Linked DNA regions of Homo sapiens: region 2 is reported to be linked to region 1. The links are microRNA targets in miRTarBase. Many come from high-throughput screens and were not tested one by one. Region 1 holds a microRNA gene; the other region holds the end of a gene's coding sequence.
Evidence for each region. The annotated mature microRNA hsa-miR-7705 reads AAUAGCUCAGAAUGUCAGUUCUG and lies in region 1 at 1,060-1,082, shown strand. An mRNA with a match to its seed (bases 2 to 7 or 8) in the 3' UTR can be bound and repressed. Matches are read on the target gene's strand: a 7mer-m8 pairs with bases 2 to 8, a 7mer-A1 pairs with bases 2 to 7 and ends in A, and an 8mer does both.

Region 2: the mRNA of RAB18 is a reported target of hsa-miR-7705. Seed matches in the 3' UTR shown: 8mer at 2,444-2,451.

What each region holds. Positions count from the first base shown.
Region 1 is chr8:100,700,663-100,704,083 of GRCh38, reverse strand. It overlaps MIR7705 (microRNA 7705), which reads left to right and starts at 1,060; the gene lies at 1,060-1,116. PABPC1 (poly(A) binding protein cytoplasmic 1) reads left to right here. Exons shown (of 15, transcript NM_002568.4): 15 at 725-1,168.
Region 2 is chr10:27,537,229-27,540,649 of GRCh38, forward strand. RAB18 (RAB18, member RAS oncogene family) reads left to right here. Exons shown (of 7, transcript NM_021252.5): 7 at 648-3,421. The coding sequence ends at 823. Among named protein-coding and RNA genes, the nearest start is that of LINC02680, 27 kb to the right of the region's middle.

The sequences.
Region 1 (3,421 bases):
AGGTGGTGTTTTTTTTTTTTTTTTTTTTTGAGATGGAGTTTCGTTCTGTCGCCCAACCTGGAGTGCATTGACGCGATCTCGGCTCACTGCAACCTCCACCTCCCAGGTTCAAGCAATTCTCCTGCCTCGGCCTCCCGAGCAGCTGGGATTAACAGGCCCATGCCTGCCACCGTGCCCAGCTAATTTTTGTATTTTTACTAGACTTGGGGTTTTGCCATGTTGGCCAGGCTGGTCTGGAACTTCTGACCTCAAGTGATCCGCCCACCTCGGCCTCCCAAAGTCTTGAAATTACAGGCGTGAGCCACTGCGCCCTGCCAGATTTTGTATAGTAATATATATATAAAATGACCTGTCACAGGTTGGCTTTCATAGTTTTACCTTTCCTTTTTGGGTGGTGCCCTTGGGTCTCTACTACTGTCTTTCATCACTCCCAAGAAATTGAGTAGTGCAGCCAGGATCAGGACCAGGGATTGGCAAATGTTTTTTGTAAAGGGCCAGATAGGAAATATTTTGGGCTTTGAGGACTGTGTTATCTCTGAAATGATCTTGTTCCAGTGTTACCATGTCAAGACAACCATAGATAGTATGTATACAAATGAACAGGTATGGCTGTGTTCCAGTAAAACTATGGATAAAAACAACCACATTGCATTTGGCTAAGGGCTTTAATTTGCTACTGACAAGTGATAGTCCTGGTCTTAATTTGTTTTTTTAACATTTACAGATTGATCAGGGACCATGAAAAGAAACTTGTGCTTCACCGAAGAAAAATATCTAAACATCGAAAAACTTAAATATTATGGAAAAAAAACATTGCAAAATATAAAATAAATAAAAAAAGGAAAGGAAACTTTGAACCTTATGTACCGAGCAAATGCCAGGTCTAGCAAACATAATGCTAGTCCTAGATTACTTATTGATTTAAAAACAAAAAAACACAAAAAAATAGTAAAATATAAAAACAAATTAATGTTTTATAGACCCTGGGAAAAAGAATTTTCAGCAAAGTACAAAAATTTAAAGCATTCCTTTCTTTAATTTTGTAATTCTTTACTGTGGAATAGCTCAGAATGTCAGTTCTGTTTTAAGTAACAGAATTGATAACTGAGCAAGGAAACGTAATTTGGATTATAAAATTCTTGCTTTAATAAAAATTCCTTAAACAGTGCACGGATTTGCTTTTTTTCAAAGTCTTTATAATTGCCATGCATAAATAGGTAATATCTTAATGGTGCTGAGCCGACATAAGAATCTTTTATGAAAAATGTACTGTTAAGTTCAGGGGGTCTATTGGTTTTATGTAAAAGGCACAAGACAATTCCTGTAGTGCATTTTATGAGTTAAGGTTTCCATACGGATTATTGAAACAATTTGTTACATGTATTTGTTACATGATCTTAATATTTCATGTACAAGACTGACACCCATCCACTTTTGAAGATAAGCCAGTTTATGGGGTTTTTTTTTTTGCGGGTAGAGGTTGGGTCTCCCTATTTTGTCCAGGCTGGTCTCGAATTCCTGGGCTCAAGCATAAGCATAAGGCTTATTCCTGCATAAGCCACCATGCCTGGCCTGCCAGTTGATGATTATATTGAGGTTTCTAGGCTATGAGATTATTAGCTTAAACCCTTACATGATATAAAACAATGATAGCTACTCTTGAAGAGGATGTAGATAAGATAGGCTTTGGTATGATTTTAATATTAAAGTGTTAAAAGTTATGATTAGTTTTAAACCTTATTCTTGTAACGTCTTTAATTTGGTAGTTCATGATTGTGGCTTAATTTTAGTGTAATACCCAAAGTACTTGTTAAAGGTGAAGATGTGGGGTTCTTTTAGGAGGATGGATTTAGAAGATCTAGCCTGGAGTATAGGGTATCTGCATAAAACTGATAACCCAGGCAGTTTACACTTTTAGGTTTTAATTTCTAACCGATCATTCTCTGTGGACTACTGCTAGAGTTAGCTTTCTAAGTTAAACGTGTGGTTATCTCATTCCATGCTAAACAAACAATTCTATTAACCTTCGGGATTAAATAAATCTAAACAAAACCCTAGCTTGTGACAGTGGCAGCCCTCAATGCTGATGAAGCCTAGTGATGCTTCTGTACCTAGAATGCTTTTCGCTTTGGCTTCTTGTTTTGAAACTCAAGATAATACAAACTCCACCCTCCTACCCTTTAGCATAGAACAGTGCATCCAGTGGGGATCCTGATCATTTTGTATTTTGCCTCACAACAGACATACCCTCTCAGGGGCTGATGCTTCATTACAATTTTTTTTTTTGAAAGATTTTCTTCATTGTGTTAAGGCAGAGAAACACCATATTTTTTCAAAATTGTAATACAAAATGGTTCAAATTTTGAGGTTTTAAAAGAGCCGGCTATTTTGAGACACTTGAAGTCAAATCTATAAAGTTCACACACTAGTTCACACACCAAAATCTAGTGCCAGGTTGGGTTCATAGCTTTATACGTTAGGTAGCTGATTGATTGGAAGTCAGTATTTGTTGTGAGATTCGAAGATAAGTCATATTCATCTGTTCCTGAAATGTCTGCTTTTTCAGATAGAGCAAACTTTAAGTGGCCAGAGCCAACAGATTTGGGGAGTAGGCATTTGGATTCTTGCAGGAATTAAGGAAACAGTTGATTCTCATTTGCAGATTCCGTATTTACAAATTTGCCTACTCACTAAAATTTATTTGTAACCCCCAAATCAGTGTGCATGCTGCTTTCATGGATGTGTGCAGAGCAACAAAAAGTTTGCGTCACCTGATAACACACTTCCCAGACGAGTATCCCTTTCATGGTCTGTTGAGTGCTATGTTCTTGACATTTTTGTGCCTTTTGTGGGTGGATTTTGCTGTTTAAAATGGCCCCCAAGCATAGCGCAGAAGTGTTACCTGGTGTTCCTTAGCACAAGAAGGAAGAGATGAGCCTTTTGGAGAAAATGGATGTTAGGGAGGCTTTTTTTCAGGCATGGGTGACATGAGTTACATGAATTCAGTATTAATGTATATTAAGGTATCTTAACAAACACATAAAACAAGGTCATGTATTAATTGCTGGAAATGTCACAGGCTTACAGGAACCTAACCCTGTCAGTACAGGTTGATTATCCCTTTTCAGAAATGCTTGGGATTCTGGAATATTTACATATACAGAATGAGATCTTGGGGACGGGACTGAAGTCTAAACAATTTATTTCATACATGTTACAGCCTGAATGTAATTTTATACGGTATTTTCAGTAAATTTGTGCATGAAACAAAGTTTTGACTGACCCATCACATGAGGTCAGGTGTGGAATTTTCAACTTGTGTCATGTCAGCACTCAAAAGTTTAGGGGTTTGGAGCTTTTTGGATTAGGGATACTCAACCTGTATTTAATAATTCAGTGTTCATGGTGATTTCTTTGTTTT
Region 2 (3,421 bases), not on the chromosome of region 1:
AGATTGCTTCTGATTTTCTCAGCATAATGCAGCTAGATTATTAGCTGCGATAGAGTTTTGAGAGGAAGGAATAAAGTACTCATCTCAGACGGTGAGAAAGATCATCACTAAGGAAACGCAGGGTTGGAAGCAGTGCTGAGTGTCCAGTTGAGTTTCATGAGCAAACATTTGCTGTGGGACCAGTTTTCATGGTGGTTTGTCATTTTGTCCAGCTGCCTGGAGCTGCTTGGTTGAAGGCACAGAATAATCAGATTAATTGTTTAACTTGTATGAATTTCTTTATTTTAAAATAGGAATAATATCTGCCTTGGGAGCAAGTTGTAAGAGTTAACTGAAAGCTTAAGGAAAAAACTTTCGCTCGCTATTTAAGTAGGGCTTTACAAGTTACAATTCTATCACAGTTTTAAGATTATAAACCAGTGTTTTTTTGGTATAAAATTATATACTAGTATTCTTATGGATAGAATTTAATTAGCTCAATTTTGAGATTTGGAAATTCACTAGTTATTGACCTTTGGGGAAAAATTGCTGATTTGGATCTTAATATATTGTAGGCTGATATTTATGCCCTGATAGTTTCCCAGAAAAACATGAGAATATGGCCAGAAAGGAATATACTATGAATGACCTTTTTCCTTGAATTTCAGAGGCAAGTGCAAAAACCTGTGATGGTGTACAATGTGCCTTTGAAGAACTTGTTGAAAAGATCATTCAGACCCCTGGACTGTGGGAAAGTGAGAACCAGAATAAAGGAGTCAAACTGTCACACAGGGAAGAAGGCCAAGGAGGAGGAGCCTGTGGTGGTTATTGCTCTGTGTTATAAACTCTGGGAAATTCCATCTCTTGCATATTTGATCAGATAGTGACATCTTTCTGTATATAAACTCTTTAACTGCTATTTTAGGGACCTTGCAGTTTGCACATAATTGTTTTATATCATAGCAGTAAATATTTGCAAGAAATCCCACTCATCGACCCCGGGTAAAATGTTATGGTAAGCATGCACAGTTTGCAGTCTACAGTTTTTTTATGTAGCACAAAATAGGTGTACCTTTATAAGTACATTCAATTTTATGATTTACATTTATCATGTAATTTTTAAAAAAATCCATCTATCTAGGATATGTTGATACAAAGTCTGCTTTTGCTATTCTTTTTGCTTAAATACTCCTATCATTTTCTGAATTACTTGGTATTTAGAACTCCTAGCACCACGGGGAAGAATAGAGGTATCATCAAACGTGGCAAATTTTCTTTCAGGAATAATAAAGAGCATGATTCCACAGCTTTTCTGGGATGTTTGAGATTCTTTTTTAGTACTAAGCAAAATTCTCATCACAGAATGTAGCCCAGGCCAATTTATAACTAAATCTCTATTTGTTCGGATGATGCTTCTAAAACAGCATTGATAGGTTAAAGAAGCTTGGTATTTTTAATTTACTTCAATGATTAGCTCAGTTGCTTAACTGGAGTTTTAATCCTGTGATATGTACATTGGATTCATGACTGTGCAGCATTTTTAGTTATGTGGTGTTTGGCAGAATGACAATAAGGTTTTCCCCCATTTTGGTTTCAGGAGGACATGAATAGTGTGTTTATTGTAACTCCTCATACACTTTTAAAACCAACATCTTTTTTCATAAATGTTGGTAGTGTTTGTCCAGGTACCTTAACTGTAGCTTGTGTAATGTTGATGAATATCTGTATCTTACGGCTTCCATAATGGCTAGTTGATATTCAAAAACCTATTTCTGTGTTTTGAGGGGTGGGGAAAAAAAACACTAAGTGATAATTTGAAAAAGGCATATTGCTTCCAGATTCTGATGTGTGAGGGAAAATACTGTCACAATGAAAATCTTGACAATTTACTTAACAAGTAACCAGTAGTTCATCAAAACCAACTTGTACAGACTAATAAATCTTTTTCACAGTATTCAGTTTTCTCACCTCTTGCTATTGTATATTGTAGATTTTTTTCATTCATGTGTTATTTAATTTACACTGATCTCTGCTATTTTAACCCCCCAAATAAGTTATTTGTCCTTTAAGGTTGGTTACTATAATACCCCTCAGTAAGATTCCAGTATTAATTTCTGGGCAGTTTGTTCTCTGTATACAATTGCAAATGATAAGCATTTTTGTGAGTGACCACCTTTGCAATATGTTTGTTAATTTACTTCATGTTGGGTTCTTTCTGAAATGTACATCTTTACATATAAAAACCTCACATTCTACTTGATTTACACTTCCTAGTCTACATTACATGTGGTTGAAGGTTTTATACATTCTATATGCTTTTACTAAATATACAAGATTTACTACTAGAAATTTGGAGAAAGAACACTAACACATGTACTTGTGATTTGTTCATGTTATATTAAAACTTGAGATTTGTGTATTTATGTAGAGTCTGTATTGACAAGACTGTTGTTTTTTGCTCCTTGAGCTATATAATAATCTGTGTATTGGATTGTTGTCTTGATTTGGTCTAAATTTGAATATATATGAGTTACTTGAATATAACAAAAATGAATTTTGTTTGATAGATTTATATTGTAACCTTTTTCTAGTTCTTGAATAAATATAGCCTGCTTTCCCTAGATGCATTTGTGTAGGAAGTATATACATTTCCCTATTACTCTCATCAGCTGAAGAATATGTACTATTGTGTTACTCAAATTATGTGGCTTTCATTTTGTTGTTTTGTTGCAAGCTTAGTGTTTTGTAGTGGAGGTTTTGTAAATGAAACAGTTGTAATATCTAAGGTCAGGCACCTAGTAACAGGGTTTTGTTAATTCTTTTCAGAATCATTGAAGCAGTCTTAAAGGGTCTTTTGCAGATGGTACAAATTAGAACAATTAGAATATAGTATTTTGAGTTCTAGTAGTACTGAGATTGACCCAAACAAATAAAAAACTATTCAATTTCTGAGTAATAGTTAATATTTATTGAAAGCTTCCTTGGTGCCAGATGCCTTTCTAAGTGCTGAATTATCTCATTAAACCTCACAGCAACCTTAAGAGATTAGTACTCCTATTATGCCCATTTTAAAGGTGAGGACAACACAATGTAGGTATGTTAGGTAACCCCCAAAGATCACATAGCTACTCAGTCACTGAGCTGGATTCCAGTCATGGCATTTTTACTTCTGAGCCCATACTCTTCACCATCGCTCATTTTACAATGGGTAGTTAGTTACCAGCTTTTTGTAACACAACCAAGTTAAGGCAGTTCCACTATTTCTTTATCACTCTTTTGTTATATGTAATAGAAGTATTTCACACTTTTGGGTTATAGAGTAAATCCCATGATGTAAACCTACCTCATAAGTCATGTGACATAAAAGTTAAGGTAGTGGAGTAGGTGGTCTTATTTCTTTCACCTGCTCAGAGTGGACTGAAAATCCTGACTTAGAAAAGGT